Regions from separate parts of the Homo sapiens genome. Here all the other regions are reported to be linked to region 2. The links are microRNA targets in miRTarBase. Many come from high-throughput screens and were not tested one by one. Region 2 holds a microRNA gene; each other region holds the end of a gene's coding sequence.

What was found. The annotated mature microRNA hsa-miR-3915 reads UUGAGGAAAAGAUGGUCUUAUU and lies in region 2 at 5,306-5,327, shown strand. An mRNA with a match to its seed (bases 2 to 7 or 8) in the 3' UTR can be bound and repressed. Matches are read on the target gene's strand: a 7mer-m8 pairs with bases 2 to 8, a 7mer-A1 pairs with bases 2 to 7 and ends in A, and an 8mer does both.
Region 1: miRTarBase lists TXLNA as a target of hsa-miR-3915. Seed matches in the 3' UTR shown: 7mer-A1 at 2,826-2,832 and 7mer-m8 at 4,075-4,081.
Region 3: miRTarBase lists PPP1R9B as a target of hsa-miR-3915. Seed matches in the 3' UTR shown: 7mer-A1 at 6,291-6,297.

What each region holds. Positions count from the first base shown.
Region 1 is chr1:32,193,534-32,201,625 of GRCh38, forward strand. It overlaps TXLNA (taxilin alpha), which reads left to right. Exons shown (of 11, transcript NM_175852.4): 10 at 532-627; 11 at 1,369-4,752. The coding sequence ends at 1,662. It overlaps CCDC28B (coiled-coil domain containing 28B), which reads left to right and starts at 7,062. Exons shown (of 6, transcript NM_024296.5): 1 at 7,062-7,176. RefSeq lists enhancers at 5,721-6,279, 6,280-6,837, 7,050-7,129, 7,388-7,907, 7,820-8,039 and 1 more.
Region 2 is chrX:32,577,996-32,589,037 of GRCh38, reverse strand. It overlaps MIR3915 (microRNA 3915), which reads left to right and starts at 5,286; the gene lies at 5,286-5,382. All of the region lies in intron 13 of DMD (dystrophin), which reads left to right. RefSeq lists an enhancer at 5,830-6,457.
Region 3 is chr17:50,128,974-50,135,973 of GRCh38, forward strand. PPP1R9B (protein phosphatase 1 regulatory subunit 9B) reads right to left here. Exons shown (of 10, transcript NM_032595.5): 8 at 6,995-7,000; 9 at 6,580-6,676; 10 at 4,764-6,411. The coding sequence ends at 6,358. It overlaps SAMD14 (sterile alpha motif domain containing 14), which reads right to left and starts at 1,187. Exons shown (of 10, transcript NM_001257359.2): 1 at 544-1,187. RefSeq lists silencers at 903-962, 1,203-1,282 and enhancers at 3,437-4,179, 4,060-4,129, 4,180-4,921.

The DNA of each region.
Region 1 (8,092 bases), not on the chromosome of region 2:
TGTTGTTGTTGTTGTTGTTGTTGTTTGAGATGGAGACTCACCTATTGCCCAGGCTGGAGTGCAGTGGCATGATCTCAGCTCATTGCAGCCTTTGCCCCCCGGGTTCAAGTGATTCTCCTGCCTCAGCCTCCTGACTAGCTGGAATTACAGGCGCGTGCCACCATGCCTGGCTAATTTTTTCTTTCTTTTTTTTTTGTATTTTTAGTAGAGACGGGGTTTCACCATGTTGGCCAGGCTGGTCTCGAACTCTTGGCCTCAAGTGATCTGCCCGCCTTGGCCTCCCAAAGTGCTGGGATTATAGGCGTGAGCCACCATGCCTGGCCCCTTACCATTCCTTGTTATTGGTGGTGGACACCTCTGACTTCCTGGTGGTGAGGTGGCACAGAGGGCATTGACTGCATCCTGTAATGCCTTGCGCCTTGGGATCAATCATTCCCCACCTTGGAGACACAGGTGCAGTCCCCACCTTGGAGACACAGACCTTGGAGAGGCCAGCTCTGACCATTTCCTTCTGTCTGTCACATAACCTAGATGACTAAGAAGATCAAGAAGCTGGAGAAAGAAACCACCATGTACCGGTCCCGGTGGGAGAGCAGCAACAAGGCCCTGCTTGAGATGGCTGAGGAGGTGGGCTGTCTGTGATCTGCAGCCAGGGTGGGGGTGTGCACTTAGCGCATATCAGGCCCTTTCCTGTATGTTCTACCCATCAGTGACACAGCTAGCATGAGGTAGAGGTGAGATTTGCACACAATGTCCAAGTCCAAAGTTAATGCTGTTCTCTCCCCATGGGAGGTGGTGAGCCCAGTGGTAGGTCTCCAGTGGGAGTGAAGGGAGCAAATGGAAGAAAGGAATAAAAGAGCAGAAAAAAACGGGTGCCAGTGATGTGCCTGGTTTACATGTAAAGCAGCCCAGGTAGTTTGTGATTTCACAGCTTGTAATGTAGAAGAAAGGAACTAACGATGGAGCAGCAACTGCAAGCCAGACCTTGCTGAAAGTTTTTGGGTTTTTTTTGTCTTTTTTGCTGCTGAATGTTTTTAGGTACGTTGTTCATTGAACCTTCTCTTGAGCTCTGAGGATGGTATTAGTAGTCCTGTTTTATAGATGAGACAGGCTCAAAAGTCAAGTCCTTTGCCAAGGTCACGTGGTAGATAAATGGAGGAATACGTTATCTCCAAGCCGTGCCCCTTTTCTGCACCATGCTGCCCCACCTGACAGCCTAGTCATGGCTTCAACTAGGACTGTTTCCTAGAGGGGGCCAGCTTTGGACTCGGTCTGCTCTCAGCCTTGTTAAAGTGTTTGCCGCCAAGTGGTGATGGTAAGTGGGAGGTTGATGGGGCACGGCACTGAAGGTCTCATTTCTTTCCCTAGAAAACAGTCCGGGATAAAGAACTGGAGGGCCTGCAGGTAAAAATCCAACGGCTGGAGAAGCTGTGCCGGGCACTGCAGACAGAGCGCAATGACCTGAACAAGAGGGTACAGGACCTGAGTGCTGGTGGCCAGGGCTCCCTCACTGACAGTGGCCCTGAGAGGAGGCCAGAGGGGCCTGGGGCTCAAGCACCCAGCTCCCCCAGGGTCACAGAAGCGCCTTGCTACCCAGGAGCACCGAGCACAGAAGCATCAGGCCAGACTGGGCCTCAAGAGCCCACCTCCGCCAGGGCCTAGAGAGCCTGGTGTTGGGTCATGCTGGGAAGGGAGCGGCAGCCCAGCCAGGCCTGGCCCATAAAAGGCTCCCATGCTGAGCAGCCCATTGCTGAAGCCAGGATGTTCTGACCTGGCTGGCATCTGGCACTTGCAATTTTGGATTTTGTGGGTCAGTTTTACGTACATAGGGCATTTTGCAAGGCCTTGCAAATGCATTTATACCTGTAAGTGTACAGTGGGCTTGCATTGGGGATGGGGGTGTGTACAGATGAAGTCAGTGGCTTGTCTGTGAGCTGAAGAGTCTTGAGAGGGGCTGTCATCTGTAGCTGCCATCACAGTGAGTTGGCAGAAGTGACTTGAGCATTTCTCTGTCTGATTTGAGGCTCAGACCCCTCCCTGCCCTTCAGAGCTCAAGACAAGTAATACACCCAGGTCTTGACTGCATTTGTCTTGTGAGCAGGGCTTGCTTGGTCAGCTCAGGCCCTCCTAGCTGCTCTGGAGGCTCCTTTGATTCTCTAGACCTGGAAAAGGTGTCCCTAGGCAGAGCCCTGGCAGGGCGCTCAGAGCTGGGGATTTCCTGCCTGGAACAAGGGACCTGGAGAATGTTTTTGCGTGGGATGATGTGCTGGTCAGGAGCCCCTTGGGCATCGCTTCCCCTGCCCTTTGGTAGTGCCAGGACCAGGCCAATGATGCTTCTCAGTAGCCTTATCATTCACAGGTGCCTCTCTAGCCTGCACAAATGATTGACAAGAGATCACCCAAAGGATTATTTCTGAAGGTGTTTTTTTCTTTATTTCTTTTTCTTTTTTTTTTTTTTTCTTTTTCTTTTTTTTTTGCACATGACAGTGTTTGTATTGAGGACCTTCCAAGGAAGAGGGATGCTGTAGCAGTGGTGCCTGGGTGCCTGGCCTCCAGTGTCCCACCTCCTTCACCACCCCACTTGGCTCCTTTGCCATCTTGATGCTGAGGTTTCCTGTTTGGTGAGATCAGGTTGTTTGTGGTAAAAGAAAGGAAAGGGCTTCTGATGGCTTTGCCACAAGCTTACCTGTGGGTTTCAGTCCTGAGAGGCCACCACCAGTTCCCATCAGCACTGTCTCCATGCAGCAGTTGCTGGGTCCCATGTCCAGCTGCCTCTTTGGCTTCATGGGTTTTTCTGCTTCCTGCCCCCACCCCCACATGTGCAATCCTCAAGATTTGTCCTGATTCTATTTCCTGGCACCTCCCTGCCTGTCCTTGGGGATTCTACTTCTTCCTGTGTGGGAGCCCATAGCTGTTGTCTAACAGGTAAGAAATGAAATTGAACTATTGACTGGGCCCCAGAAATCCATAAAATGGCTGCAGACAGTTGTTTCTGTGTCCTGTTCTACCCCCACTCCAGTACATAACTACTATGTACTGTGTAGAGCCATTCTATATGCTGAATGTTCTGCTGTTGCAAACTTGCCAGGGTATTAGCCAGTGTTTGTGCCAAGCAGTTTTCTGGGACAACAGAATGACTCAGACCAAGATGGATAGGATGGTTAGGGCTTTGCTTCTTGCTGTTTTTCTTTGAAGCTAGTTCATTGTCCTGCAGGTCCCTTCATCTTCCATACCTAGCCCACTCTTTTAGCCCTTACCTTAAATCTCTCAGATAAGTTGGTTCACAAAGAATGTTAAGTACTGAATCATGTGTGACTGAGACCAGAGATGGCAAATGAATGGCACACCATTTCTCCTTCTCCTGCCCCAGGGCAGGTACCACTGATCTGCATCAGAGTTGCCTGCTATTCTCTGGTGTATCCTTCACATCTAGGTGCCCTCAAGCAGCTGTGTGAGTGTTGAGATCTCTGCCATCTCTGGCTGAGATACTGCTGTCCTGTGAAGTGTTTCCCATGACCTTTTTCTTCCCCTTTGAATCCCTCTGTCTGGAGTAGTCCTTGCCTCTTCCTGCTCCAGTAGGGCCTTTTCCCTACCCCAGCCCCTGTGCCAGGCTAAGCTGGTACAAGAGCTGCCAACCTCACAGAGTGTTTGCTAGGCGAGAGAGGTGCAGGGAAGAGGCAGAGGTATGCACCTTCCCCCTTGAAGAGAGGGGAAAGGCCTACAGTGGCCCACATAATTGCCTGACTCACACTTCAGCTACCTCTTAATGCCTGTGGAGGGACTGGAGCTGCTGGATCCCAGTGTGGTGGTGTAGGAGGCCACAGTGAGCAGGTGGCCCCAGCTGGGTTTCCCAGGTCAGGAATGTGGGCCCCAGGCAAGGTGCAGCCTTTGCTCACAGCTCCATCCATGTCTAGACCTTCAGGCCAGTCTGCAGATGAGGTTCCCTACCTTTTTCTTCTCTTCATTGACCAAATCAACCAATCACTACAGCTGCTCTGCTTCTGCTTTCCAAAGTAGCCCAGGTCCTGGGCCAGATGCAGGGGAGGTGCCTATCCATGAGTGAAGGCCAGTGTCTTCCTCACCTGGGTGGGTCCCACACTTGTGACCTCAGTTTTAGGACCAAGATCTGTGTTGGTTTCTTAGATTGCTAGCTTTTCCTCCAGGGGACCACAGCAGGTGAAGCTCAAGAGCGCATGGCTCTGCTAATAGTAAATTGTTTTCAGGGCCTTGTCCAGCTGAGAGCTTCATGTCCACCAGATTCTGAGAGGTGTCAGCAGCACTTTTTTTTTTTATTTGTTGTTTGTTTTCCATGAGGTTATCGGACCATGGGCTGAGCTCAGGCACTTTCTGTAGGAGACTGTTATTTCTGTAAAGATGGTTATTTAACCCTCCTCCACCCCATCACGGTGGCCCTGAGGGCTGACCCGGAGGCCAGTGGAGCTGCCTGGTGTCCACGGGGGAGGGCCAAGGCCTGCTGAGCTGATTCTCCAGCTGCTGCCCCAGCCTTTCCGCCTTGCACAGCACAGAGGTGGTCACCCCAGGGACAGCCAGGCACCTGCTCCTCTTGCCCTTCCTGGGGGAAGGGAGCTGCCTTCTGTCCCTGTAACTGCTTTCCTTATGGCCCAGCCCGGCCACTCAGACTTGTTTGAAGCTGCACTGGCAGCTTTTTTGTCTCCTTTGGGTATTCACAACAGCCAGGGACTTGATTTTGATGTATTTTAAACCACATTAAATAAAGAGTCTGTTGCCTTACTTGTTTCTCTCCTGACCTGTGTATTCCTTTGTTTCTGGATCTGATCCATTCAGCCCCTTCCATCATCACTGACTTGTTCAGGTCTGCTGCAGAGCGCCCATGGTGGTTCCCTGGTATCTTACATATTCCACAGTGTCTTTGAGCAGTCGCCACAGCCTCAGGATGCTGGCATATTCACTTGAGCTGCCTGAGTGGAGCCCTTGGCAAAGTTGGCAAGACCCTTGCCTCAGAGAGGATCACACACACACAAAAAAGTTTTCCCTGACCTGGGGGCTCACAGGCTAGTGAAGGGAAAAGGTACTTTTAGCTATAGACAGGTCAATGGTGCTGAGAGCAGAGAGGAGGCCCCTGCCCCCTTCAGCAAGGTGAGGGGGTGATACCTGGAATGGCCTTCTGAACCACAGGGCAGGTAGAAGATGAACGTCATTTAGTGATTAAATGGTACAGCTGGGAAGCAGGTCCATGGGACTGGGAGAGGGGGTGAGGCTGGGCCCAGAGTCTGGGTACCAGGTTAAGGAATGTGGGCTAGATCCAGAGGGCAGGGGGGGCAACTGAAGGTGTTTCAATAGGAAATTGATAGGCTCCAGCAGTAAGGCAAAAGGCATGGAGCCAGGCATAGGCCATTTGAGGCCCAGGTTAAGAGGGGTGGACACTCATCACTGCTATTTGGGTCTGAGCTGTGGGTAGGCTCCTATAGCCCTGGCCTGCCCAAGGGAATTCACAGGGGCCTCTAATTGTATGCATTCCTTAAGGAGAGCACATTCTCTGTTCAGTTTTTACACCCCCCATTTACCCACCTCAAGCATGGGACTCCTATATGGGAGACATGCTGCTGGTGGCCTCACCCAGCACCCTGTTCTCTCTGGGTCCTGGGTTGGTCAGGCACAAAGGATGATATGTGCTGAATGCCCAGGAAATGGCAGAGACAACCCACCTGCCCTTCCCTCCAGGCCTCCACAAATAGATGTGCCCACAATGACTGTGACAGTCCCAGCAGAGCCTCTGACCCTTCTAGCTGGGTCCTGATACATGTTTTCCATGCTGGCCATGTTATTTCTAGTCGCAGATCCTCTGGAGGGTGTGGGGGGGGTGCCGCCCCAACTCTTGGAGATTCCAAGCAAAGCAGCTCTGAGAATAATGAGGTTTCTGACCCCCCAGTGAAGCAGCTGAGGATGGGAACCACAGGGGTGCTCCCTCTGTCAGCAGCATTACCACTGTCTACTCTAGCAGCTCCGGTGGGGAAGGAGAGGGATTTCTGTTGTCCCCAGTCTGGGCCCCTGGTTATTGAAAAAGTTCGGAATTACTCTTTACCCTTGTGGAGTGTTCTGAGTGTTGGAAGTACCCAGGAAGAAGCCCTGAGCAGGTGCCCTCAGGAGCAGTGCCCATGGCTCCCCACATCAGCCAAGAGGCCCAACCCCAGGAAGCCACTCCTGCCCGGGGATGGGGAAGGTGGGCTGGGTGGCTGTGTGCACTGCCCTGGGCCAGCTCACTTGAGCCTGCTGAGCCGCCTGGCCAAACATGAGCCTCTCTCCTGTTGTATCAGATGCTGTTCTGGGGACCTGCGCCAGGAGCCTCTGCCAGGGCTTTAAATAGCTGCCCCCATTGATCTGGCTGCAGGCAGCAGCAGTCACACTGGGTCAGCCTCCATCAGGTGCTCAGGTTTCCCTGAGGACTGGAGTCAGGTGCCAGGGAATCGCGTGGTCTACCTTATGACCTGGTGCTCCCCACACCTGTCTCCTAGGCCTGGGGGGTGGGGAGGACTCCTGTCACTTCATCTGCGGCAAAATACAGCCCCCACCACTTACCAGAGAAAACTGTCTGGCATTGTAGAGAGAGGGGTTTTGCCCTCAAAAGACTGTTGCTTACTTTCAGTAGAATGGGGAATGACACTGGTATCTTCCTTAAGGGTTGTTATGGGGATGAAATGTATGTAAAGTGCTCAATAGGGCACTGGACTCACTCCATTGATGGCTGTCTTTGCTCGAAGTGTCTTCCTGATGCTGCTGCTGTTGCTGCTTGTGCTTCTTCTGTGCTTACATTCTCTCTCTCTCACTCACTCACTCTGTCTCTCCTCTCCCCCGCCCCACCCCCTTTCTGACAAAGCCACCACCATTTTGTAAGGAACTGTAGCTTCTCTCTGAAACTGCCGGGAAAGGGAAAATCTTTTTAAAATAGACATCACACAACCAACAGGGTCCCCTAGGTTCAGGCGGGGAGGTGAGGTCGAGTGAGAGGAACTGCTTAGCATACGCGGGGATGCTCCTCCCATCTCACCCCACCGCGCTAAGGAGAAGGTCACTTTCTCTTTAAATGCAAATGAACTCCCTCCAGCTTAGCTTTCACCCGGTGGTGTTCCCGGGAGGAGAGGGCGGAGGGCGGAGGGAACTTGCACCGAAGCATCACTCGAGACCCCAAACCTCCAGGTCAGTAGCCCCCTGAGGGAGTGAGGGCGGGGGCGGAATGACGCGGGTCTGACGCTCTGTCTTCGAGCGCGGCTGCGGAGCTGAGCGATGAGTTTGGCACATGGCTTTGGAGCCCGGGCTTGGGAAATAGATCCCCGGTCGCCCCAGCCGCTCCTGGGGAGCACAGGCTCCGGCTCCAGTTCTTCTATCAGGTCCCTAATTGGGTCAAGCTGCTGCACGGAGAGGCAGAGGATGCGCTCCTATCTCCCCTCCCCACACCCGCAGACCCCGTCAGTGGCAGCCAGCTATGTGTCAGTGTAAATGCTTAAGCGCCACCCACCCCCCCAACCCCCCCAGTCCCAGAATTCGAAGTTAGGCTCGGTAGCAGCAGCCTGGAATGAGACCCCCAGAGGAGGGAACCCCAGCCGACCGGAGGCTTGGGGGGCGCTGCTGGACCGGGGACCTCGGAGCAGCCCAGCCACAGGCGCAGCCTTTGTCGGAGGCCCAGGCAGCCAGCGGCCAACCACCCAGTCCACCCTGGCTGCAGCTGAAGCCCAGCAGGGACTTTCCGACTGGGAAAAATGAAGCAGCTGAAAGCACACCCGCGGGACCTATAGGGAGTCCCTAATATTTTCGGTTGGGGGTGGGTGGAAGTGGAGGGATGCCGGTGTCTATGTGGGGGAAACCCACAATGAACCCTGCCCTGTATGCTGCGGCTTCTCCTACAATTACCCACACGCTGGGGCTTTCCCAGGCGCCCCTACCTGCACCTTGTCCCCCTCCCATGCTGACAGGGTTTGTTAGCATCTGCTTAGGCCCCTGATAAATAGAATAGGGTTTAGTTAAGACATCCCTAATCTTCGGCTGGGCTTCTGCAGCTCACCTCCGTCTTGTCTCCCACTACATTTCCTCTGCCAGCCCCGCCCCCCAGCCACCG
Region 2 (11,042 bases):
CCAGATCTTTCCTGAGTCCATTTTCTTCTAATTATCTTCTGAACACATCCTTGAAGTCCAAACAACACTTCAAACTCAACAAGATGAAACTTACCTCACTGTACATTGCCTTCCTTTAAACCTGCTTTCCTTACTGAATTTCTTATTTTTGTCATTGCACTGGCACTTATCATGACACCTGTACCAGAAACCTAGAGTCATCCCCAAATTCATCCCTGTCCTTTCCCTTATGAGCCCTTTGCATGCAATGTCAAAATATTTCTCAACCTTATCTTGTATTTATTATTTCATCTTTGTTCTTGTCAACATTTCTCAAGGTATAGGCCATATCATAAGCCCCCAAAGTCCTTGCCTTCAGTCTTACCGCTCTTCCATCCAATCTCCACATTGAAGTCAGTGTGGGTTCCCAAGAGCCTGTTTAATCGTTCTCCTTTGCTTAAAATCCTGAGTCACTTTCCAGATTCTGATACTTTGGCCTACAAGGTATTTGATTACCTGACTCCTACCAGTCTCTATAGACTTGTCTCATGTTATCTGCTTTATGTCCCTCAACCTGCATTTGATTCATACAAGCTGTTTCTGATACCCTGTATGTTACGACCTCTTTGCACATACCACCGGGTTTAAACAGACGACTCTGCTTCATAAGATCTGCTTTGATAATTTCATCTATGTATAGAAAACTCATTTCAAGTTTTCCTCCATGAAATTGGCCACTCTACCTAGTGATGACTACTCCCTCTTTGTGCCATGTCTGTACCCTAATTGTGTCTGTTTGGGCACCGATCATATACTTTTGCAGTTAATATTAATGTGCTTTACTCTTTTATTAGAATCTAAATTACATGAGATGTGTCTTACACATTCTTGCCTGCATTGTCAGATACAAGTAATCAGTAATTCTTGTAAGATAACTGAATGAACCTATGAACAGACGGTTGGATATAATTCCAAGAAAGATTTTTTTGACTTAAAAGGGAGAGCTTTTTGTTGTAAGGTAATTAAGAGGAGAAACTCTAGAAATAGACCCTTCCTGCTCTGTTCCTTATCTACAGTATACCTTTGGGCAAGTCACTTAACCATCCTTGGCTTTAGTTTCCCCATCTTTAATATGAAGATTGTATTAGAACCTACATTATCAGATATCTGTAAAGGGTAAAAGGGTAGTTGAGAAGCTAAAGCATTTAAAAATCACTGAAATATAGTAAGCAATAATAATATTAGTTACTATTATTATCATCATCAGCCCAGAGCATTCTTACAATGCGATAAGAGCTGTGGAAAGTGGTGAGCTGTTCTTCATTAATAATATTTAACACAAACTGGAATCTCATGTTCAAGTATGTTTTAAAAGAGGTGACATACTGAGTGGGAAGTTAGACTTGATAGCCTCCAATGTCCCTTCCAATACAGGTGGAGTGCAAGAAAATAAAAGGAAATACTGCCCAATCTTATCTAGTAGAAGCATAATTCTCCCTCATTCTGTAGAGAACTTCAGCTTTAAAAAGCATGATTCTCAAAATTACTTTCATAAGAAAAAACAATCTGAATATAATGGCAAAATATAAAGAAGTCAAATACTACATTCTGCCAATTATTTTGACCAACAGTGATAATTTTTAAAGGTGACAAATCTGGATAAGTAGACAATAAGAATGACAGACATTTAATGGTAACATCTCTTTGGACATTGCTGTTAGTGTCGTTAATAGTTTTAACTTGTGTAACATGAGTATCACACAGGTTACAAAGGGAATGTGCTATATCTCAGTTACAAAGAGAATGTTAAAATAACAAAGCCACTTGGAAAGAAAATGCTATACTGTGAAAGGTAGTTGTTCAGAAAGACGATAAAGTCAGATTTTTCTCTCATCACCTAAATGTCAGTTAGGTAACTGAAATTTTTATAGTACATATCTTCGGGATAGTATGAGAAAGAAAATTTTATAGAATGTTAGACCCTATCAAATTAAGAAATAGAAGTTATTTATGAAGAGGAATATGGTTGAAACATTTTGATGTTTCGCTCTAGTTCCTAATTTTATATTTGGTGAATTAAATGCATTTAAAAAAAACTTTAAATGTGATGGAAATAATCCACAAAGCTAAGCATCAACATTTGTTGCCCAAGAAGCAATAATTATAATTATTAGATTATTATTTTTCAGGAGTTTTACATGCTTTGTATGTAATGCCAACCCTATATCACAAATGAGAAAGCCAATGCATAATGAAGTTAAATCCAAGTTCATATAGCTTGCAGGTGGCAAGGCTGACACTGGTATTCAGATGTGTGACAACTCAACCTGAGATTTCTCCCAATCTCTCAAATTCATAGTAGAAATTTGCTATGTGGCCTTGTGAAAATTATGTGATTTTTTTCAGTTTTGGTTTACTAATCAGCAACGGGGGAATACAGAAACCTATGTAACACAGTAATGTATTCGTACCTGTAAATTTAACTCATTCATGCAAATACTATCTATCTGTATAAAATGCAATATCTATTCATATATATATGAATAGATATAGCATTTGCATGAATGAGTTAAATTTACAAGTACAAATATATATAATATAAACATATATATTTATTTATTTTAGCACCTGTCCCACTCAATTGCATTAGTACATAAATATTTTTCTCTTCTAGAACAACACTGTTCTAGAAGAGAATGGTTTATATATGTATATAGTTTATATAAGCAGTATATATATATTAACACCTGTCACACTCGATTGCATTAGTATATAAAATTTTTTTCTTTTCTAGAACGACACTGTTCAGTAAGGAAGTTGCTATACACCTTTGGCTATTTTGAGCACTTGAATTGTGACTGGTATGCTTGAGGAACTGGATTTTTTATTTTATTTACTTAAATATAAAATGGCACATGATTCAGTTATTAGAAAACTTTTGAGTATGTTTTGATCAGCTTTGATATGTGCATTGTTTTTTCAACTGCACATTGTATCAAGTATAAATAAATGTTGAATATTCTAATGAAATTTGAACATCCAAAGCCAATGTGCTGTAAGTATACAGTTAACGCTAGATTTCAATTTATGTTAATACACGGTCTGTTGTAATACATTTGGCCAATAGGGTGTTAGGTAGATTTGAAAGAACACAATGTCTGGATTACTCAATCTGTTTTCTATTCTGACTTTATAATTTATGAGTTGAACAATAAATTCTCTCATGATAAAAATTATCAAATGAAACTCAAAGATAACAGTGATCATAATACCCACCATACAAAATTACAGGGGAAATATAAGCAAGTATGCTGGAACAATAATATTCTTTTTTTTTTTTTTTTTTTTTTTTTTTTTTTGAGACGGAGTCCTGCTCTGTCACCCAGGCTGGAGTGCAGTGGCGCGATCTCGGCTCACTGTAAGCTCTGCCTCCCGGGTTCATGCCATTCTCCTACCTCAGACTCCCGAGTAGCTGGGACTGCAGGCGCCTGCCACCACGCCTGGCTAATTTTTTGTATTTTCTGTAGAGATGGGTTTCACTGTGTTAGCCAGGTTGGTCTTGATCTCCTGACCTCGTGATCCGCCAGCCTCGGCCTCCCAAAGTGCTGGGATTACAGGCGTGAGCCACCACGCCCGGCCACCCGGCCAATAATATTCTTTATGAATGCAAGTGTTAATACATTTACAAAAAATTTTTAAGTTTATTGATACATAATATTTGTACATACTTATAGAGTACATGTGATATTTTGTTACACTGTTGTATATAATTATATAGTCTTCCTACTCTGCTATCGAACATTAGAACTTATTCCTTCTATCTAAGCGTATGTACCCATTAAACAACCTCTCTTCATTCCATCCACACACTCTTCCCAGTCTCCAGTATCTATCATTCTAATCTCTAGCTCTATGAGATCCAATTTTTTAGCTCCCACATGTGAATGAGAACATGTGGTATTTGTCTTTCTGTGCCTGCTTATTTAACATAATGACCTCCAGTTCCATTTATGTTGTTGCAAATAGCTATATTTCATTCCTTTTTATGGCCAAATAACATTGCATTATGTATATATAACCTGTTATCTGTTTATCTGTTGATGGTTCTGAAAAAAAAATGCAAACTTTATGGTACTTTTTAAATTGAAGTATCAAGCAAAGGACATAAGTTATAATTATAGCTTAAAGACTTATTACAGAAGTAACATACTATGATTCCACATCCAGAAAAAGATAGTATGTTACCAGCAACCAGGAAACCTCCATCAAGCCCTATGGTATCATAAACTCTTCCCATCTCCTCAAAGGTAACATGTATCTTGAGTTATAATGCTGCAGGTTAGTCTTGCTATATTTTTAACTTGATGTAAATGAAACTTTTATATATGCAGTTTTTTAACTGGCTTTTTTCACTGGATACTATATTTGTGAGATTCACTATGTTGCATATAGCATTACTTTATTAATTTTCATCGCTGGATAGAATTACTTTGTATGAATATACCACATTTTACATATTCTGTTCAGAAAATTGGGGTTGTTTCCAGTTCGGAAGCATTACAAATAATTCATCTATCAACATAAATTGTACGTATATTTTTGTGTATATATGTAAACTTTTGTATTAGGTATTTACCTAAGAATAGCATTTCTTAATCATTGGGTATATGCATATTTAGCTTTCAAGATATTAACAAAGGGTTTTCCAAAGTTGTATAAATTCATATTCTCACCAGTAGTAAATGAAAGTACAAACTGCTTCATATCTTCTTGAATACTTGTTTGTTAAACTTTTTAATTTGAGCCTTTCTGGTGACTTTATAATGTCATCTCTCATTTTTCATTTGTATATACTGATGACCAGTGAGGCGGAATACTATTTCAGTTGTTATTGGCCATTTAAATGAACTCTTCTCTGAAATGCCTGTTTTTCTACTGGATTTTCTATATTTCTCTTACTGATTTATTTTAGTTTAAAATATATATATTCTGGGTATTCTTTGCTGTTTATATTACATTTTTCTTTTTGAATGGGTACCTTGCCTTTTCACTCCGTAATGATATATCTCTTCATAAACAGAAGTTTAAATTTAACATAGTTCACTTCAATATTTTCTGTTATGTTTAGTGTACTTTTGTCCTCAGTTTAAAAATAAAACTCTCTACTTTAAAATTCTGAAGCTATGGTCCTGGGTTGCTATATAGGAACTGTTTGTTTTACCTTTCGTATTACAATCCACCTATTATTACAGGTATGAGGAAGGGATGAATGTCCATTTTTTCCCATATAGATCCAACTGAAACAACAAGTTGGCACTGTAGAATATTGAGGAAAAGATGGTCTTATTGCAAAGATTTTCAATAAGACCATCCTTTCCTCAATATTCTGTGGTGTCATCTTTGACGAAAATATTAGAAATAAAATGCCTATACGTGCATGGATCAGTTTATGGACTCTAATCAGTTTTATTTCTCTACTTGCCTGTCCTCATGCTAATTCCACATTGTTTTAATTACTATAGCATTATGACAAGTTTTAATATATGGTAATATTTTTTTGAGATGGAGTTTCGCTGTTTCTACCCAGGCTGGAGTGCAGTGGCAAGATCTCAGCTCAATGCAACATCCGCCTCCCTGGTTCAAGCAATTCTCCTGCCTCAACCTCCTGAATAGCTGGGTTTGCAGGTGCCCACCATCATGCCTGGCTAATTTTTTTTGTATTTTGAGTAGAGACAGGGTTTCACCATGTTGGTCAGGTTGGTCTTGAACTCCTGACCTCAGGTGATCTGCCAGCCTCGGCCTGCCGAAGTGTTGGGATTGCAGGCGTGAGCTACCAGGCCCAGCCTGTATCTGGTAATATTGTAAAAGAAAAAATGCACCAGACAAACAGGCAAGAAAGACTTTATTCAAGACTACTGAATTATGGATCAAGACTATTGCCATAGGAGAGAGAGATGGAAATCATTTCTACTGAAAGAAAGACAGGAGAGAATTTAAGCACTGAGGAGAGCTAGTAGAAAAATACTGGAAGATATTAGGGGGTTAGGATGGTGATTAGGCAATCTGTGATTGTTAATTGGCACTTAATGAAGTTAGGCTCCTACTGTCCCACAGAGACTGGGAGATAGGCGTGCTATCATTAACAATTACATTTCAAAGAGATGGCTCCTAGGTCCTTGAGAAAGATATTCCCGGATTGTAGAAGATTTACATCTCAAAGAGGCAGAGAATATGTTTTTGGTTGCAAGTTTCCCTAAAGTAAGCGCTCTAAGAAAAGAGAGGTCAGGAGCCTATAGTCAAATAAAAGCCTGTCTAGAGTTTAGTCACATTAAGTTTGTTTTGGTCAGTTGGTCAGTAAAAGCCATTTTATTTTCTTCCTTTTTAAAGATTATCTTGACTGCTTTTGGCCATTTCGATCTCCATATGAATTTTAAGAACAGCTTGTGAACCCTGCCCCCAAAAAGAATCTGCTGTGGTTTTAATTGGATTTCATCTATTCTCTGGATCAACTTGTACAGAATCAACATTTTTATTATGTAAAGTCTTTCAATCCTTTCATTTAGTTAGGTCTTTATTTTCTCTCAATAATGTTTTATAGTTTTTAAAGTAAAGGCTCTTAAACTTTCTCTGAGATTTATTTCTTGGGTTTTTATATTTTTGCTGTTATGAATATATTTTTGAAATTTCATTTTCTATTTGTGCTGATATAAAGAAATACAGTTGATTTTTTTTCTTGGTCTTGTATCCAGGTACCATGCTACATTTACTTAATAATTTGAATACATTATCTGTAGTATTATTCAGATGTACATATATAGGTTGTTTTTGAGTAATGACAGTTTTCTTTCTCCCTTTCCAATTATTTTTCATGTCATTAATTTTCCCTGACATATTGTACTGTATAAATACTCTAGTACAATGGGAGTATTGTGGATATTTATTTCTCATTTTAAGTCTCAGAGGGAAGAACTTTAATAAATAATCATTAAGTATGATCTTTCCTGTAGGTTTGTTGTAGATACCTTCTGTTCTTAATATTCTAAGAGGTTTTATCACTACCGGATGCCAAATTTTATCATATATTTTTCCAGAATCATTTGAGATGGTCGTATTTTTCTTCTTTATTCTGCTATATGTCAAATCACATGACTTAGTTTTCTAATGCTAAAAAAGCCTTTCTTCCTGTAATAAACTAAACCTGGATAAGACGTATAATCTTTTTTGTGTATTGCTAGATTTTCTTTGATTCATAGTTTTTCCTTTACGTCCATGAAAGTGATTGGCCTGTTATTTTCCTTTCTTGTAATATGCTTGCTAGGTTTAAGTACCTGATTATGCAGGCTTGGTAACTGGCTTCATAACTGGAATTTGCAAATGGGAAATTTTAAAATTAAATTTTTATGTATTTAATACACATAAAAATGTCCATTTTTAATTGGAATTTCAACATTACATTTTTCCAGATTTTCCGTTTTGGAGTCAGCTCGAATCATTTGTGTCTTTCTAGGAATTGGTCTATTGCATCTAAAATTACAGATGTATTTAGATAAAGTTCTATTTAGTCCCTATGGTATTTAATAGTAGTTTATTAGCTACCATTGTTTGAAATTGAAAAAAATGTGACATGAACTAAGAATTTCTAACCTCTCTAGAGAAAGCAAATGATCTGATGATCCTTAGTCTGTTTTTCTACATAGTAACCAGAGCAGGAGTCAAGTTGCCCTGTTTTCTCTAGCACAGGCTCTTCATTTAGCCACAGTCCCCATTACTACCTATTCTGTTACACCTACATTATCTTATGCATTTTATTAGGTATGTACGTTAGAATTTGTGATTTCTTGTGGATGAAAAGTTGTGATGTCAAGAGTTGGCATGAGACATAGAGGGATATTTATCTTCTATGCACTTGCTTTCAAATAAGATACCTTTTGGAGCCCGTGCTCAGTGGCTCACGCCTGCAATCCCAGCACTTTGCGAGGCCGAGGCGGGCAGATCACTTGAGGTCAGGAGTTTGAGATGAGACCAGCCAACATGGTGAAACCCCATCTCTACTAAAATACAAAAAAGAGCCAGGTGTGGTGTCTCACACCTGTAATCCCAGCTACTTGGGAAACTGAGGCACAAGAATCCCTTGAACTTGGGTGGTGGAGGTTGCAGTGAGCCGAGATCGCGCCACTGCTCTCCAGCCTAGGGGACAGAGAAAGACTCTGTCTCAAAGAAAAAGAAAAAAAGGATACCTATTGGAATATGGCCCTGTTGTTTAAAATTGTAAAGGTAAAAATTTTCAATTCTTGTATAAAACATAAGCTTTATCAAGTATAGAAAAAAATGCAAAAAAAATTATCATTAATTGTCCTTCTAAAATGTTTCACTGTGTTCTATATTAAAATTCTATCATGCTCCAGATTTATCACATCTGGAATAAAGGCTGATTTTTTTATCGACTGAGCTCTAAATCCTTACTATCACAAGCATCTCAATAATTCATCACAGATTTAAGAGCACTTTCACATTTATTGATCTATCTGACCCTAGCAGTTACCTGTCTAGGAGAGTCTGTACTATTATCTCTATTTCACTGGTGAGAAAACTAAAGCACAGCAAGATTGAGTTTGTTCACAGATATTACAAAGTTGGGCAACAGTAGAACTGAAGTGGGAATGCAGGAAGTTTATACTTTATGTAATGATTAGCAGATTGAAAGATCCAAAAAAGATGGTTCTAAGACAAAAGTTGGGTGGGGAAAGCCACCTATTGATAACGACAGTAGTAGTATTCAGTTTTGGGATATTTGTGCAAGACATTAACCTCAAAGGTAAGGAGCCCACCTCAAGGAGCTCAGAGTCTGCGAGGTATAAAACGATAAGGAAGAGGAAACCTCAAGCTACCAAGGAATGCCTGGGAATGTGATGAATGCTGGAAGGAACACTGTTACGCTGGAATGCTCCTTAGAACTCCTGCTCTTTATTTTCTGGTATCCCAATTGAACAGACTGGTGGGAGCTGGAGAGTACAGAGTTTATTAAGCTGCCAAAAAAAAAAAAAAAAGACATTAAATAATATCCTGCAAAGAATAACAGCAGTGACAACAACAAAAGGCTTTTCCAGATTTATTCATTAGCACTTTGTATACTCACACAAATAAATAATATAGGAAACTGACTGAAATAGCGTAGAGAAGAACATGCTTCTTCGTGTTAAAATCTCACTACACTTTCAGCACAATTGCAAAGGCAGAATTTAATGAACAAATCAGTCATACTTACCTTTTAAAAATAAGTCCTGCAAAGGCCACATGTTCTTAATCTGGAAGTGCAAGTATTTGCTGACGTTTTATGATTAAACAAATACAGAGTTACAGTGTCAAATGTTTTTGAATCAAATTATAACATTAAGCTTCACATCCTTGTGAAGCAGATTAGATTAAATGTTAAATCTAGTCAAACTTCTGCTAAAACAAAATATGAAAAGACTCCAAAGGGATTCGGCATCTGGATATCTCACTGTAGGTTGTGTAGCACAAATTAGAAGGCATATCTTTTATAATGAATGCCCTACTGAATGAATACCATTATGAACGAGCATGAACTTGTAGCCAAATGGATCTGAGGTCAAATCCCAGACACTCAGTACTGTGGCTTCTGTGACCTCAGACAAGTTACTTAACCTATCTGTCAGTTTCCTCATCTGTAACCTGCCCCTTTGGAAGTGACAGCTAAAAATTCCTTGAGTTCAGACAGGAGATTATTACAGGATCATTTAAATAGAAGTAAGAATTATACTTTTGAAAAAACTTCCAGTAGTTGTTTCATAACTCATCAAAATAGGTTTATCCGCCCTGTACCATATGTTATACAGTGAAGATATAAGGTACACCATTTTATAGTATGGTGCTTCAGTTCAGTTTGTAGAAATGTGTAAAACTGAGAACCAAGCCATACCCTTGGCTAAACACTATTCAGTAGGACTCTGCCACATTTCTGCCTCATAATGGATTTTTGTTTTTTTCAATGGTTTTTGATGTGATTTCCATTTCAACATCAGTAAGAGTAAGTTGCTTATACGTTTTAACTGCATAGTTGTTGATAAAGTAAGAGAAAAATCAAGAAATAAGGGATTTTCAGAGGGCTCATTACACATAAAATTCATTTAGCAGAGAAGTGTATTATAGGGTCTTAACCTGCAATAAAATAAGATGGGTTGTTTTCTGCCTCCCTCTTTCATAAAGCCCCGTTGCTGATGCATTGTGTGGTCCATGGCACATAATTGTTTCCGCCTTAGTGGATATACGCCTGGGAACACTCTATCTCTTAACGCCAATACTGATGGGCACAGTTTAGGTTTCATATTCTATCCCTGGCTCCAGTAAATTCAAGGGTCACCATACTTAAGATTTACCTCCCAGGCTTGTCAGATTTTCCTCAGTTACCTTTATCCAAATGTTCTTTTAGTAGCCATTTTTCACTTTTGAATTGAAATAGCAACTCAACCAAACAAAGGAATTCAGATGAGAAATGTCCTTGGCACGTACAACAATATGACATGTGAATTAAATGGGAGGAAAAAATCCTCCCCGTTGTGGATCTGAGCATGGACGATAATGGAGTTGTGATTTAGTCCATGAAAATGTTAGACGAAGTGAGCTGACCTTTAGCTTCACTTACTGCTGAGACAAAATGAGAATATAAATAAAAATTAACTTCTTTTACCATTTTGTGAGACTTTGTAATTCATTGGTTTTACATTTATGTGTAGAATGTTTAGCTCTATAAAAATATGCATTATTGCTAAAAGCTCAAGGGATTCCTATACGTAAATAGAAACTCAGAGAAACAGAGTTGAAGTTACATATTTTTTTTTTCTCTAGAGAAGAGGTTTCTAATCCTAATACAGTGGTTCTTTAAAAAATATATGTATTAGCCCCATTTTATCCAATTTCTTACACTTGTCTAACAATTTTGTTATAGCCATTCAGGCAATGATAGGAACCAGCATCTTTGAGTGATTCCAGAGCTGAGGGATATAGTCTTCCAATTGCTTTGCTTCATTCTTTGTAATTCAAAT
Region 3 (7,000 bases), not on the chromosome of region 2:
GAGGCCGGGAAGAGGTGGATGGGAAAGGAGACTAGCGGTCGGGGAGGCAGTTGTGGAGCCAGAGAGGTGGTCCCCCCTTCCCATATCGCCGGCCGTCCACTGGCCCCAGGCTTGGGGTAGTCCTCAGGAGTCGGGCACCCCCTCAAAGCACTGTTGGAGATGGGGTGAGGTTGGGGACAGGGCACCTACTCCACTCTCAGAGCCCTTCTCCCCAGTCAGAGCCCGGTGGCTAGTTTCTCTCCAAACCATCAGCACAACTCCCCGCCGGGCAAGAAAGAGTTAAGCCCTCTCCCCCTCCCCCCACACCAGCTTTTTATTAATTTCTCCGGGCGTCGGGCGGGAGGGAGGGGATTAGGGCCATAAATCCTATCTCCGCCCCCTCCCCTGACAGCCCGGCACCCCAGCCCCGTGCGGTCCCCCTAGGGATAGGGGAAGAAAGGCCCTTGTCGCTTAGCCCTGCCCAACCCCACTCAGGGTCCCACCGCGGGCCCGAGTGGCCCTAGCCCCAGTTCCCGGTCCACCCCAGGGCGCCCGGCCCCTCACCTCCGGCATCGGTCATCTTCAGCGTCTGGCGCCCCGGGAACCCCTCAGGCCCATGGTGCTCGAGGCGGGGGCCGGGCAGGAGAGGGGTGGGGGGACCGTCACCCCGGCCGCGGGGGGCTCCGGGCGGGCTCGAGCCGCTCCATCCCGGGGGTGGGGGTGAGGTCGGCGGGAAGGGTCCCAGAGCCGGGGGAGATGGAGGGCGGGGGATGTGGGGAGAGGGAACAGGTTCGCTGGAAGCAGGAGGCGCGGGCGGGGCTGGACCAGGAGACCTGACGGGAGGATGCTCCGTGTGTGTGTGCGTGTGCGTGTGCGTGTGTGTGTGTGTGACAGAGAGAGAGAGAGAGAGAAGAGCGAAGAGCGAGCGCCACCTCCCTCCCCGCCCCTGCCGCCCGCCAGGCCTGGCCGGACGCGGGGCCCCCGCCTGGCAGGGCCGATTCGCGCGGCGTCGCGTCGGCAGGGGTCCGCGGGGGTCTCCGGGGAAGGGGCGTCGGGGTGGGGGGCGCGTGGCGGAGAAGCCGGGCGCCCAGGAGACAAAGAGCGGGAGGGAGCGAGGGGGCGGGGGCGGGGGAGGGCGGCGGGGAGGAGGCGGCTGGGGCCGGGGAGCGGAGTTGCAGCTACTTCTCTGCCCGCGGGAGACGCGGCGCACCGGAGTCTGCGCGGGTGGGAGCGGCTCCGGGGCGGTCCCGCCACGGGACCCACGGGGCTTCCGCCTCCTCTGCCGGGTCCATCAGGGCTCCCGATTAGTTCATTCATTCAACAAACGTCCGCCGAGCAGCCGGGGCGCCGAGGCTGGAGGGGACAGCGGTGAACAGAACCCCCGCCCCCTAACTGCGCTCAAGGCCAGTGGGCCAGTCGGGGGCTCAGACGAGTGGGGAGGCCCTCACGAGCCTGGGCGCCATGGGCCCAGCTAACAGAGGGCACTTCTTGCCGGAAGGGAGAGCGCACCCCTGGCCCGGCCTGGGTCCAGGCGGCCGCGGCGGGAGCTGGGCTGGGGGATTCCCAGAGGATGTGATGTGTTGGCTACAACTGCGGGCCAGGGTAGGGAAGTGCCAGGGGGTGTTGGGGGTGGGAGGGCAAGAGGGGAAGATAAATTGAAGCTGGGGAGGTGCAGGGGGCTTGCACTTTATTCTACCAGCCGCCCACCCCGCCGCCCACACACACACACACACACACACACACACGCGCGCGCGCGCACACACACAAAATTAAGAGGAGGGAGGGGCTCAGGTGTGCATTTAGGAAGCACCCTTGGCTCCCCTGGAGACAGGGTTACAGAGGGCACTCTGAAGGCAGGGAGACCCGCTGGAGGCTATTGAGGGCCGGTGGCAGTGGGCATAAAGATTACAGATTAAGCTGAGAGCCCTTCAGGATGCAGGCCTGAAGAAGCTGACACCGAAGAAGCTGACAGGATTTGGGGACCTGCTGGACTAGGAGGTGAGGGAGGAGGGGTCTAGGATGGCTGTGGACCTTGGCTTGAGGCAGGAAGCCCTGGAGCAGGTGGGGGTGGGGACGGATGAGATCAGACTTGGACCCAGTGCGCTGATGGTAGTGGCAGGCCAGCCAGGGAGGCAATGTAGGGATCCACAACCAGCTACCGCACGTCACAGCTTGGCAGGTGCCAGGCGCTCTCAGATCATCTATTGTCACCCTCACAATAAACCCACAAGGTGGGTGTTTCCATTACCCACTGCCTCAGAGAAAACAGAGACTTAGAAGAAGGAAAGTGCTTTGCTCAAGAGCAAGTGGTGAAAGGCCAGGCGCAGTGGCTCACGACTGTAATCCCAGCACTTTGGGAGGCCAAGGTGGGTGGATTACATGAGGTCAGGAGTTCGAGACCAGCCTGGCCAACATGGTGAAACCCTTGTCTCTACTAAAAATACAAAAATTAGTCAGGCATGGTGGCGCTACTCTGGAGGCTGAGGCATGAGAATTGCTTGAACCTGGGAGGTGGAGGTTGGAGTGAGCTGAGATTGTGCCACTGCCTTTCAGCCTGGCCAACAGAGTGAAACTCAAATCTCAAAAAAAAAAAAAAAAAAAAAAAAAAAAAAAAAAAAAAAAGGCAAGTGGTGAAGCTGGATCAGGGGTCTAGAGTCAGAGGAGAGGTGTGGAGTCTATAGGACAGAGTTCCCTGATGGCCCACAGGACTCTGCAGTCCGAGGCCTCCGGGAAGTGGCCTGTTGAACCAGGACAATCTTGTGACTATGAGTGAGGACAGAATTAACAGCCTTTAGGGTCTGAGGGTATCCTAGGGGATTTATAGGAGTTTGGGGGTCTCTGGGTGTCTTCAGAATCTTCTGGCAGCCATGAGGCTAGATTGTGGAAATCTGGGGAAGGGGTGGGGTTTCTGTTGACAGCTGTGGGGGCTGCATCTGGCTGTCTTAAAGGGGTTGTGCTTTGTAGGCATCTGGTGAGATCTGAGTGGTGGGCTGTAGTGGGGGGCTTGATTATATAGACCCTGTACATCCCAAGGGGGTGGGGAGATGATGGGTATGTTTGCCAGGCCATAGGACCCAGGAGGAGCCCCTGTTCCCCTATTCCTAGTGAGGCCTAAGCTTCTGAGGGTTGGCAATAAGTTGCCTTATTGGCAAGTGTTGGCAAACCTACTCAAGCTTCCAAAATTGGGCAAGTGAGTGGGGGGATAAGGAGGGTTTAAGGTGACAGGCCCACTTACAGCTACTTGACAAAGTCCCAAACATGGACATACTGTGTATCATGGGCAAGTCACAGCTCAGGCTTGAGAAACTCACAGCAAAGCCACACACACCTCCAGGCACACAACACACTTGGGCTTAAATGTGAGGGGTTACTTGGCCCACTGTTTGAAACATACTATGTATAGGCCCCTCACCTAACACACAGGACAGACGGGGAGTGGGGGAGGGACAGAGGGACCCCGCCCTGGATGCTTAGCCCCCATCGGCCCAGCAGAAACCCTCGAAACCTTCATGCCTGCCTCCCCACCCAGATTAAGACTACAGATTACAGGAAGGTCATGCCACTTCACTTCTTGGCTAGGTTTCCTGAGCAGGGCCTTGGTGGCCCTGGGGTTCAGTGACTTCTAACTCTGGAGCCATGACCTCTGACCCTGTGGTTTGGTGGTCTCTGATCTTGGGGATCAGACACCTTGATCCGTCTTCAGCATCCTTAGGGCTCCCAGAGTGTTCCAACAATCGTCCACATAGCAAAGATGCCTTGGGAAGAGTATTCACTATCCCCAGGTTTCCAGGCAACCCTCAGGTGGGAGGCAGGATTGGACTGGCCTGAGGTGTAGACCTAGGGTTTTTGAGGGATAGCTATGGGAAGCCAGAATTTGGCTTAGCATGAATGTGACCTGTGTGACACAGCCATCTACAAGGGAAGCTTCTGGAGCAGACTGTCCCTGGGGGTGCTGCCACTCATCTGGATGTTGTTAAGGACCCACCAAGGTGACCTTGAAGGGCTCTGAAGTTGGGACTTCATTCCTTATGGCAAAGGTGAGAATTCCCTAGTGCCACACCACTGAGTGCAAGTGCCTCCATGCTTCAGGTCTCTGACATCTGCACACCAGCACCCCGGCAAGGAAAGGCTGGCCCTGGGGCCTGCCATAAGCTCCTGCCCCATTCCCTGCTGGCTCTCACCCCTCTGGGACTTCACCAAAGCTTGTCCCTGGAACTCTGGCACCTAGACTCCCAGACCCATTAGCATTTGAGCTGGTGAGTCAGCACACAGGCCTGCTGGCCCAGCACAGGGGCTGGGGCTATTTCAGGCCACTTGGCCCGCCCCAAAGGGCAAACAGATCCTCTAGGACCCTGGGTACTAAACTGCCAGGCAGTCACCTCCCACCCCCAGCAATCCTTTGATCCTTTACCTGCCTCACACCGGGTGCCTCTTGAGAGTGTCCCCACAGTTTAAAGGCCTTCTGGGGGAGGGACTTGGGGTTCACCTTGCTGTATTTAGCCCATCCTTTGAACTTCTTAGAGGCCCTGAAAAACGAATGCAGACTAAACAAACTCTCTAGAAACCCTCAGCCCTGCCCAGGAGGACTGGACAAAAAGCATGGGTGCTGATGGCTGGAATGGGGGCAGAAAAGCAGTTTGCTGGAACCGGAAACGGGGGGACACTGTAGGAAGTTCCTCAGGGTTAGAGGCAGCACTGGTGGGAGGGGACCACTGGGGCAGCCTGGCATCCTTGATCCCTGCCCACTCCCCACCTCAGTGAATCAAGAAACCAGGCAGCAAGGCTCTGGGGGCTGCTTTTATGGGGACGACCTGACAGAGGGCATGGTCCGTACAAAACCGGGAACAATACATACATATATATATTATATACAGAGATGCGGCCCTCCCGACGGCTGGGCAGGGGTGGCCGCTGGCCCAAGCAGCCCGAAGCGGCCCCGCCCACCCGGTTCCGCCCCCTCCATCTGCCGGGGTGAAGTGCGCGAGCCCAGGACTGAGACAGCCAGCTCCTTCAGGGGATGGGGGCACATCTGGGGATAGGAAGGGGTGGGGACAAGAAATACTGATCGAAGTCATGGTCTATTTACAGGGGACAAGAAGCCAAAACGGATGGGATGGGTGGTCTGTTTTTAAAAAATGAACAAAAACCCAGTTAGGGCAGGGGCATGAAGTGGCAAAATGAGATGGATTTTGAAAGGGGAGGGGACCTGGGGGAGGTGGTCTCACCTCCCTTGGTCCAAGCCCCAATTTGGGGTTAAAGTGGGGAAACAGAGTCGATTTCACTTAGAAGGCAGGCTGCCAGCAGGGCAGCCCTGGTCTCCAAAAAGATGAGTAGTAGTAAAATTTTGCCCTCCAGTCAAAACATTGGAAAACCAGTAGGGGGTGGGGGCGAGGCTGACTCCCTGCAATGTCAGTAGGCTTCCAGGCATCGCCCTGGGCTGGGCAGACAGGGCAGCACAGGATAGGACCTGACTCTCCAGGGAGAAATGTTCCCCTTGCCTAAGACCAGGGTCGCTGTAGCCAGACCCCCTTTCCTCCCTGGCATTCCCAGGCTTGACCAGGAAACCTGGACCCCAGAGAGGCCACATAACAGTTCCAAGACGAGGTTATGGCTATTTGGCACCTGGAAGAGGGGAGGCACAAGGAGAAATTGAGGGCTGCTGCCCCAGGCAATGGGGAGCTGGGGACCAGGTGTCCTGAACTCTCCCTTTTTCCCACTCTCACTCCCCCTTTTCCCGAAGGACACATGAGAAATCAGTGCAGGGCCAGGGCCAGGCCCAGCCTCCGGGCTCTGGGGTGGACTCTATCCCTCCCAGGACAGGGAACAGGGATGGGGGAGGTGTTGAGGCAACGCCCCCACCCCCCAGGCGGGAGGGTCAGAATGCAACAGAGACGGCACAATGATGGGGGGAGAGGGAAGGGCCGAGAAGGTAGAATCTCAAGTCAAGAGGCCCAGGGGCCACCCAGGTGCCCCATGGGCAGGGAGCAGCCCCCAGTTGGCAGATGCTGGGAGAGCCCCAGCCCCGTTCCAGTCCAGAGACAAAAGCTGGAGTGTGTAAAGTCTGGCAGTTTGATCTGCAGGTGCTTGTGTCCGTCGACCACCAGGCCAGCCCTCGGCAGCCCTCGGCCTCTGTGCCTCAGCCCCATGGGGCAAGAAAGAGGCTGCCCTTCTAGCCACCTCTGTCTGCCCAGGCCATCTTAAGGGGGCCTGTGATATGAGCCCTCTGGTCCCTGAAGCTGGGGGAGGTGGGGTGGAGGGGTGGGGGGAGTCGGGGCACCTGTCCCCAGGCTGGAAGGGGGAGGGGTGGGGTGTTGAGGACAGGGGAGGGAGGACAATGGGAGGGGGGTTAATTATTGTCCAGTCATGGAATGATTCCTGTTAAGTAGAATTGGAATTCCTCAGTGTTTGCAAGTTTCCTTCCAGTTCTGAGATCTGGAAAACAAAGGAGGGTAGGGGGTCAGGTCTGGACACCAGGCATGATCCCAGCCCCTTCCGCCCCCCGGTGAGGACATGGCATCCCCTCCCTCCAGGACCCACAGGGTAGGGGCTTCAATGCTGCTCCCTCCACTGGGCCCTGCCCACAGGGCGCCCCAGGCCCACCTTGTCCAGGAGCTTGTCCATCTCCTCCTTTCTGGCCAGCTCCGACTCCTCCAGAACCCGACGCTGTGCAGTCTCCTTTTTCAGGAACTCGATCTCCCTGGGCACAGGCAAGGGACAGATGGCAGGTAAGGGTGTGTGGTCTGGCTTTCATCCAGGGTGACCCAGGTCCTCAGCTTTACCTGGGCAACTCTGTCCTTCCCTGTTCTCAGGTCAGGAGGCCCCAGGTTTTCCCAAAGCCTCTGGGGGTCTGGCTCTGTGCTGGCTCTGATGCCTGGTCATTCCGGACCGGGTGTCCCCACCATGGGGCCCTCCAACTTCTGTGCCTCCCTACTCAGCTGGAGGGATGGGGAGGGACTGTCCCCAAAAGCCTCTCAATGCTCCCTGGGCCCAGCCCGCCCAGCCCCCAGCCACGTACTTCTGC